2 linked regions of the Homo sapiens genome follow. The protein of the gene in region 1 purifies or fractionates together with the protein of each later gene. This does not show direct contact. Each region holds a gene or a part of one and is shown on either strand. Other genes may lie near its edges.

Evidence for each region. Proteins that work in one complex are often made in the same cells at the same time.
Region 2: the proteins of TXNDC12 (region 1) and MZT2B purify together in Homo sapiens (affinity purification with mass spectrometry; 2 studies listed by BioGRID and IntAct, with this or other methods). This does not show direct contact.

What each region holds. Positions count from the first base shown.
Region 1 is NC_000001.11:52,043,984-52,049,619, forward strand, and holds part of TXNDC12 (thioredoxin domain-containing protein 12 precursor), read right to left. Parts: intron 1-5,636. UniProt on the Homo sapiens protein: Protein-disulfide reductase of the endoplasmic reticulum that promotes disulfide bond formation in client proteins through its thiol-disulfide oxidase activity.
Region 2 is NC_000002.12:130,185,071-130,189,430, reverse strand, and holds part of MZT2B (mitotic-spindle organizing protein 2B), read right to left. Parts: intron 925-4,360; coding exon of another isoform or gene 845-924; exon of another isoform or gene 1-844. UniProt on the Homo sapiens protein: Required for the recruitment and the assembly of the gamma-tubulin ring complex (gTuRC) at the centrosome.

The DNA.
Region 1 (5,636 bases):
GATTTGACTCTGAAGAGTGAGTGATTGAGAATGAAATTGAGAGGATGCCCAGGAGAACTGCAAGGTGTCTAACATGATCACCATCACTCTATTGGTCAATATCTAAACTCAGGCAACTGAATCCTGCTTTGGCAAGATGCCCAACCAGACAGTCTGAAGGGATATACACCTACAAAACAATGAAATCCTAGATAAAATGGACTTTCAGAATGTGCTCACTAGACTCAGTAATGACAGAACCCTCCATAAACACAAAGCAAGCTAAAACCTATGAGCAACAAGCAAGTGAGGCTGCCCTGAACGCAAGCGTCCATTATGATGTGGCAAAATGGAGATGAATCTGAAACTCCCACATTAACACAACCCTCAAAAGAGACTAAAGTGATTCCACGTGAGTGGTACCCCCTGGTTTTCAGATGAATCAAATGCCAAAACTTTCTGGAGGAAAAGATTCTCCACTTTAGGCTTCCAGGATAGCCAATGAAGAAGAACAACCATTATGAGCTCACAATCATGGATCACCAAAAATGTGAGAAAAGAAGTCGCCACAAGAACACAAGCAACAAACAGATTTTGATCCCTGAGGAATTCAGATATTAGAATTATCAGCCACAAAATACAGAAATAGCTATGCATGAAATGTTTAAAGAAATAACACATGGAATCACAAAAACAGGCATGCAGCATGCAAAATAAATAGTCAAATCTGGCCAGGTGTGGTGGCTCATGTCTGTAATCCTAGCACTTTGGGAGGCCGACGTGGATGGATTGCCTGAGCTCAGGAGTTCGAGACCATCCTGGGCAACATGGTGAAACCCTGTCTCTACTACAATACAAAAAAGTTAGCCAGGTGCCGTGGTGCAAGCCAATAGTCCCAGCTACTTGGGAGGCTGAAGTAGGAGAATTGCTTGAACCTGGCAGGCAGAGTTTACAGTGAGTTGAGATCACGCCACCACACTCCAGCCTGGGTGACAGAGCAAGACTCTGTCTCAAAAAAAAAAAAAGAAAGTCAAATCTGTGAAGTCATCAAACAGAACTTCTAGAAATTAAAAATACAGTTTTGTTGAAATACAAAGTGAATGAATATGCAGTGATAAAAGGAAAGGAGTAATCAAGCCACGAAAAGACATTGAAGAACCTTAAACATATACTAAGTGGAAAGAGCAATTTGAAAAGGCTATATACTACATAATTCCAATTACATGACATTGGAAAAAGCAAAATTATGGAGATAGTAACAGATCAGTGGTTAACAGGGATTCTGGGGGAGAGAGATGAATAAGTGGAGCTCAGGATATTTTTGTAACAGTGAAACTATTCTATATGAAACTGTAATGGTGGATACATACTGTTAATGGCCTCAATTGTGTCCCCCACCCCACTCCAAAGTTCATATCTTAAAGTCTTTAAAGAGGTAGCTGAGGTAAAATGAGGTCATTGCGGTGGGCCCTTATCCTTATGAGAAGAGGAGATTAGGACACAGACAAACTTAAAGGGAAGATCATGTGAAGACATAGAAGACAGCCATCCACAAGAAGAAACCAACCCTACCAAGACCTTCATATTGGACTTCTAGCCTCCAGAACTGTAAGAAAATAAACTTCTATTGTTTAAGCCGGTTAGTCTGTGTATTTGTTATGGCAGTCCTAGCAAACGAATACATATGTTATTATACATTTGTCAAAACACATAGAATGTACAACACCAAGAATGAACCCGAATGTAAACTAGGGACTTTGGTTAATAATAATGTATCAATATTGGTTCGTCAATTGTAACAAACTATCTTTCAAAAGTAAGAGCAAAATAGACATTTTTAGATAAGCTGAGTGATTTTTCCATCCTTCCCTCACAGCCCTCAGAAAAAACAATCCTGCTGACACTGTGATTTTGGACTCCTAGCCTCCAGAACTGTGAGACAATAAATTTCTGTTAAGACACAGTTTGGGCTGTGGATGGTGGCTCATGCCTGTAATCCCAGCACTCTGGGAGGCCGAGGTGAGAGGATCATTTGAGCCCAGGAGTTTGAGACTAGCCTGGGCAACATAGTGAGACCCCATCTCTATAAAAAATAGAAAAATTAGCCAGGTGTGGTGGTGCATGCCTATAGTCCTAGCTACTTGGGAGGCAGGGGCAGGAGGATCGATTGAGCCTGTAGTGAGCTGTGATTGCCCCACTGCACTCCAGCCTGGGTGACAGAGCAAGATTCTGTCTCGAAAAAAAAAAAGACACAGTTTGTGGTACTTTCTTACTGTAGCCTTAGCAAACTAATACAGGGGAGCAAGGCAAAAGCAAGGAGACTAATAAAGGGGCTACTACAATAATCCAGGCAAGAGATGATAGTGGACTGGACCAGCTGGGGTGGTAGAGGGGTAAGATACCAATAGGTTCTGGATATATTTCAAAGGCAAAGTTAGCAGGATTTTGCTATGGATATGGGATATGAGAGCAAAAAGAGAAGTCAAGGATCACTCTAAGGTTTTTGGCCTGGACAAGTAGAAGGATGGAGCTGCCATTTACAGTGAGGATGAAAGCATGATTAGAGCATGACCAAGACAGTCCAAGGAGAAAAATTAGATCGAATACATACAACTCTTTCAAAAAATTTTTGACTGGGTGTCGTGGCTCACGCCTGTAATCCCAGCACTTTTGGAGGCCAAGGCAGGCAGATCACTTGAGGTCAGGAGTTCGAGACCAGCCTGGTCTAACCTAACATGGTGAAACCCCATCTCTACTAAAAATACAAAAATTAGGCCAGGCGCGGTGGCTCACGCCTGTAATCCCAGCACTTTGGGAGGCCAAGGCAGGCGGATCACGAGGTCAAGAGATCAAGACCATCCTGGCCAACATGGTGAAACCCCATCTCTACTAAAAAAAAAAAAAATATATATATATATATATATATATATATTAGCCGGGTATGGTGGCACACACCTGTAATTCCAGCTACTCAGGAAGCTGAAGCATGAGAATTGCTTGAACTTGGGAGGCGAAGGTTGCAGTAAGCCAAGATCATGCCACTGCACTCCAGCCTGGGTAACAGAGTGAGACTCTGTCTCTAAAAGAAAAGAATTTTGCTGTACCAGGGACAACTGAAAGCTGATAGAAATGATACAATAAAGATAGGAAAAAGGGGTAATACAACATTAGAAGGGAGAGTCACTGGTAAAATATTGGTGAGTCGGTGAGAGGAGACGGGATTTAGCACTCAAGTAGAGGGATTAGCCTTTGCTAGGAATAATGATGGTTTATCAGGTAACAACAGGAAAGGGAGCATGTATGAACACTAGTGGGTAAATGCAGTAGTGAAAATTTTTGAAAGGCCTCTTCCGATTCCTTCTGTCTTCTGGTAAAGAGGGACTATAATTACTAACTGAGAGCAAGGACTATGGAAGAAGTATTGGAGATTTGAAAAGACAGGAAGAAGTATGAAATAGTCCCCTAGGAGAGAATCAGAGAAAATAAAAAGGATAGCTAAAGGACATATTTCAGGTAGGAAATGATCCCAGAGGAAGGCCTAGATACAAAGAATAGTGAGCAAATAAACCAGCAAACATGTAGATAAATATGTAAATATTGTCTGTATAGCAATTTATAATGCCCGATTTGTAGAGTTAAAAAAGAAAGAGAGAGAGAACTAAGCCAGGCACAATGTGCACCTGTAGTCCCAGCTACTCTGGAGGTTGAGTCAGGAGGATTGCTTGAGCCCCGGAGTTTGAGGCCAGTCTGGGCAACAGGATGAGACTCTATCTCTAAAAAATAAATAACTAAGTTTCAAAAAAAAATTAAAATTAGAACTAAATATGAGACAACTCCTTATAAGTGAAGAGTGGGTGATTGAAATTAAATGTTCTAAAGTCCCTCTTACCACTGGGGGTATAATAGTGTTAGATTTTGTTAAGTATGCAAGTAAAATTTCAAGAGTTACTACTAAAAGAAAAGAACTAGAATGCCAACTTCCAAACTAATAAAGGAGATAAAATAAGAACAAGCAAATATTCAACCCCCAAAGAAAGGGCAAAAAGAAAAAAAAGCACAGAAAAAAACAGTAGAAACTGGATAACAGAAACAAGAGCTGTTCTGTCAATAATCACAACAAATATAAGTGGACTAAACTTGCCAATTAAAGTGAAAAGACAAAAATTGTCAGACTTGGTTTAAGAAAAAAGTACCTCTACGATGCTTATAAAAGCATACCTAGCCAGTTGTGGTGGCTCACACCTATAATCCCAGCATTTTGGGAGGCCAAGGCAGGAGGATCACTTGAGGCTAGAAGTTCGAGGCCAGTCTGGGCAACATAGAGAAACCTCACCTCTACAAAAAAATTTAAAAATTAGCTGGATGCAGTGGCATGTGCCTATAGTCCCAGCTACTCAGGAGGCTGATGTCAGAGGATTGCTTGAGGCCAGGAGTTCGAGGATACAGTGAGCTATGATGGCACCACTGCACTCTAGCTCGGGCAACAGAGGGTGACCCTGTTTCTTTTCTTTAAAAAAAAAAAAAAAAAAGCATGCCTAAAACAGAAGGACTTACAGAAGTCCAATGCCAAACAAGATAGAGTCAAGGAAGCTAGATTAATATAAGGTTAAATAAAATTTCTCAGCCAGGCACAGTGGCTCATGCCTGTAATCCCATTACTTTGGGAGGCTGAGGCAGGCAGATCACTTGAGTTCAGGAGTTCAAGACCAGCCTGGCCAACCCCATCTCTACCAAAAATTTAAAAATTAGCTGGGTGTGGTGGCGCACACCTATAATCCCAGCTATCTGGGAGGCTGAGGTGGGAGAATCGCTTAAACCCAGGAGGCAGGGGTTGCAGTGAGCCAAGATGGGGCCACTGCACTCCAGCCTGAGTGACAGAGTGAGACTCTGTCTCAAAAAAATAATAATTAATTAATTAATTAAAATAAATTCTCCATGTACCTAGGCCACTCAGAAGCTAGGTGTCAAACCTTACAATCACGTAAGGTTATTACTAATAGAGACCTAGAACAGCACTGTAAAGTAGAACTTACTGCAATGAGCTGTTCAATATGGTAGTCACTAGCCACATGTGGCTACAGAACAATTGAAATGTAGACAATCCAGCTGAGCTCAACTTTTACTTTTATTTAACTTTAATAAATTTAAAGAGTCACAACACTAGAGATTTAGTCTAACCCTCTTATTTTACTGAGGCCTAGAAAAGAAGTTATCCAACACTCCAAGGTAGACCACAACCAAAATTTAAGTCTCCTGACTCCTAATTAGCATTCTTTTCTAATACCCCAGTACTTCCCAAGCTGTTCTGCTGCAATATCCCTAGAGTAAGTCTAGAGGTATAACGTGAAAATAGTCCACTGTGGCTGGGCGTGGTGGCTCAAGCCTTTGGGAGGCTGAGGCGGGTGGATCACAAGGTCAGGAGTTTGAGACCAGCCTGATCAACACAGTGAAACCCCGTCTCTACTCTACAAAAATTAGCCAGGCATGGTGGCAGGTGCCTGTAATCCCAACTACTTGGGAGGCTGAGGCAAGAGAATCGCTTGAACCCAGGAGGGGAAGGTTGCAGTGAGCTGAGATTGCGTCACTGCACTCCAGCCTAGGCAACAGAGCAAGACTGTCTCAACAACAACAACAAAATAGTCTACTGCATGTACAAA
Region 2 (4,360 bases), on another chromosome or scaffold:
CTACTCTGACCTAATCAGCTACATGTTCCCCCTGCAGGCTCAAACCCTGGCTGGGGCTTGCATGTTACCAGACACTGATACACGTTTAGGTTGTTGCCTGGAACACTGAAAGATCTGACATGTTGCTAAGCACGTGGAAACTGGTCCCACCCCAGCCAAATTCCTTGCACCCTCATAGAAACTCCACACCCCACCCCCTCAGTGCGGTGTGCCTAGGCACAACCTCTTTCCTGGCTGTCCCTCGTGAGGGTACACTGCAGCCCCCTCTGTATGTAAGCTCCCTAACAAATGCTTTGGACTGACCACCCTGGCATTAAGTGTTTCTTCCTTTGGAATCCCAACTGGCTCTCATCCTGGAAAGGTTTGGGGCAGTCCCTTGCAGGAACTCCCCTGCCATCACTTTTAGGGTGACTCCAGACAAGGGTTCAGCCAACAGAACACCCAGCCTCAATCCTGGTCCTTCCCTGGCCTCTTATCAAGTGTAGTCAAATACCCTGCAATGGGAAACTGGATTCCTGGAGAAAAGATGCAACCGGGTGTCTAGAGATCCATTAGGTCATTTCTGTTTCACCATCTGTCACCCTGAACAAGCAGAGACTCCTGTGTCTGAGATGCCGTGGACCCCCGCTCTTCCAGAGGTACCTCCAGCTCCCTTTCTATGCTAATACCAGAAAATTCTCCCCATACCCTGCAGGGATAGGACGGCCCTCCTTTTGAGTTTCCGGGGAGTTCTTCCTCAGAGAATGAGATCTTTGCTCATTCTTGCCTGGTGGTGGTGAGGGTTACAGCGGTGTCATGCTTGGAACTCTGTCAGCTTGTCACACTTGACTCAACAAAGATGGAGTCAGGGTTGCCCTGAGCCAAGGAGGAGCGCAGTCAGGAACACGTGGTGGGTGATGATTGGCCACCTCAGCCCAGCAGTGACTCGTGAAAAAGGCACAAAGCAGACAATAGCCACCACGCATCTCTTGTGGTACAAACTGCCATAATTCTAGTCCCCACTGACTGGTCAAGGGGCAAGGATTCTGTCTTCCATGAGCAGACGGGCCCCGCCACCCTGCAGCAGCTCCCACACTGGGCCAGCATCCTCCTCTGAGGCCACAGTCCCTCCGCAGGCCAGGCCAGACAGAGTCAGATCTTCTGTAGCCGCAGCCTAATCTGGGTGCTTAGGTGCCCATGCGCTCTCAGCTCCCCACAGCACGCAGCATGGCAGGCCGCAGACTTGGGCCTGACTCAGAGTCGGCTTCCCTTCAGCTTGCTGCCATCTGAGCTTCCTCTCCTCCCCTCAGCAATGACCCAGTCCCTTCTGGAAACAAGGATGAGAGGGAAGCAGAAAAGAGCAAATAATGCTTTTTTTTTTTTTTGAGTGGTGGGGGAGGGGGGTTTAGAGACTGAGTCTTGCTCTGTCACTTGGTCTAGAGCACAGTGATGCAATCACAGTTCATTGCTGCCCCAAACTCACGGCCTGGAGGGATCTTCCTGCCTCAGCCTCCGATGTAGCTGGGACTACAAGCATGGGGCCACACCTGGCTAATAATGCTTATCTTTAAATCTGACAGGGTTGACAAACCCTGGAAATGTGAAACCAACATAACTTTAAGCCATAACTGATACTAAGAAAATCCTGGAAATCTTCAGGAATTGTGCGCTCTCAGGGTTAGTGGGGAGCCCTGTTCAGGCCTCCTCACTTTATGAAGGATGAGAAGGCCCAGAATAGAATGGCCTGCAGTGCCTTGCAGTGGGGAAACCAGCTTTGCTTAGCCCTGCTCCCTCGGGAGGGGCTACTGAGTCAGACGGGCTAGACAGTGGGATTGAACCAAGTGTGGCTGCAGGTTGGGGTGTGAGGGCGGGGTGACTGATGCCCCTACGCCTGGTCCCTGGAGGGCCCTCCTAAACGCCAAAGATAGTCAATGACCATTGAATGTTGAAAACAGCCTGGCTCAGCAGGGGTCAGTGGCTCATGCCTGTAATTCCACTACTTTGGGAGGCCAAGGCGGGAGGATCCTTTGAGGCCAGAAGCTAGAGACCAGCTGGGACAACACAGTGAGACCTCCATCTCTACAAAAAATTAAAAAATTAGCCACGTGTGGTAGTGTGCACCTGTAGTCCCAGCTACTCAAGAGGAGGTGGGAGGATTGTCTGAGCCCACGAGGTTGAAGCTGCAGTGAGCTATGAGTGTGCCACTGCACTCCAGCCTGGGTGACAGAACAAGACTGTCTCAAAAATAAATAAATAAATAAAAAGTAAAAGAAAATGCAGAATTAGCTCAAATACTTTAATCTAAAATATCCAACGTATTATTTCAATACGTAATCAGTACATAAGTTATTCATAAGATGTTGCATTCACCTCTGTTCTTTTTCTTGTTTCTTTGTAGAAATGGGTGGGGTCTTGCTATTTTGCCCAGGCTGGTCTCAAACTCCGAGCTTCAAGTGATGATCCTGCCTCAGCCTCCCAAAGTGCTGGGATTACAGGTGTGAACCAATGCCCAGCCTCATTCACTTTGGGGTTTTTTGTTTATTTTTGAGACAGGGTCTCACTCTCTCACCCAGGCTGGAGTGCAGTGGTGCAGTCACAGCTCACTGCAACCTCAACCTCCCAGGCTCAAGCAATCCTCCAACCTCAGCCTCCCAAGTAGCTGGAACTACAGATGTGTGCCACCATGCCCTGCTAATTTTTGTGTTTTGTAGAGATTGGGTCTCCCTGTGTTGCCCTGGCTAGTCCTGAACTGCTGAGCTCAAGAGATCCAGTAGCTGTGGACTCCCAAGGTGTGGTGGGTTTTTTGCATTCCCTTTTGTACCGGTCATTTGGCATCTGCTGTGCATACCACACGCAGTGCAATGACCATGCCAGCCATGTGTGGCTCAAGGTTCCTGTATCAGGCAGCACAGCTCAGGTGAGATGGCTTCCACACTCCAAACGTCATCTTACATGCATGCTCTGGACAACTTTTAAAACGTATAGTTTCTCTAAACTTAAATAGAACGCTTGACTGAATTTATTTTTCCCTCAATGACTCCAGACTCTCACCAAGACAAGCATTGCCCCTCTGTGCTTCTGGGGTTTTCTATTTCCCCTTCCCTGTGGGTATGAGTGAATCTGGTGGTGGTTGTCCCCACAGGCTGTCTGGATGGCTGGGGGACAGGCATCCAGAGGACCCAGGGTGCCTGCTGCAGCTCAGAGGCAAGCTTGAGAGGGCCTGGCCCACAGCCTGGAGAACTCCACACCCGAGTCCTGTGGGAAACCTATGGCCTCCATGCCCCCCAGCCGGATCACTCCAACAACCCCCCTTATGTCCTCCACCCCAGATTCTGCCATTACCAGGGCAGCCGGAGCTCTGTGTGGTCAGATGCTGTAACATGTGGGCCTCAGAGAGCTCTCAGCATTCCATCTGTGGCCTCTGCTTCTCACTCAGCAGCACACTCCTGGTGTGGCCCCACATCTGCCCCATTCCCCTCCACCTCCTCCTCAGGTTCCACTCTATCTCCACAGGGCCTCGGTGCCCTCATGTCCTGGCTTTCTGCCACCCAGCCTACAGGACCTGGGCTATGCTTCCAGGACAGAGCCCTCAAGGAACAAATGACCCTGAGGGTCCCAGCACTCCAGGCCACTCCTGTCCTTGGGTAAATTCTCTCGGAGCCCCCATTCGCTCACACAGCACCCCCTAATCCTCCTGGCCCCTCTATGCCTGCATTTCCAGTGCCACAACCCTCACATACATCTTGACCGTGCCCCCCCACCTGCCTCCTCCCGCCCCCGGCCTACCAGCACCTGGACAGCGCTCTGCCTCACCCACGCCCTCCCACTGCCCCAGCTCACACGTGTGGGGCTCTGCCGACCCCCCTCCTGCTGTAACCCTTGTTACCCCCCTGTGTAACCCTTGCTGCTCTCTGGGCTCTGAAGCCTCCTCCCATCTCCATTGCTAGCGGTTTTTCTTTTTTTTTTTTTTTTGAGACAGGGTCTTGCTCTGTTGCCCAGGCTGGAGTCCAGTCACAAGCTCTTGGCTCACGGCAACATCCCCCTCAGGCTCAGGCGATCCTCCCACCTCAGCCTCCCAAGTAGCTGGGACTACAGATGGGCGCCACCACCATGCCCACCTGGCTAGTTTTTTTTTTTTTTTGAGACGGAGTCTCGCTCTGTCCCCCAGGCTGGAGTGCAGTGGTGTGATCTCGGCTCACTGTAAGCTCCACCTCCCAAGTTCACGCCATTCTTCTGCCTCAGCCTCCCGAGTAGCTGGGACTACAGGCACCTGCCACCACGCCCAGCTAATTTTTTTTGTATTTTTAGTAGAGACGGGGTTTCACCGTGTTAGCCGGGATGGTCTCAATCTCCTGACCTCGAGATCCGCCCGCCTCGGCCT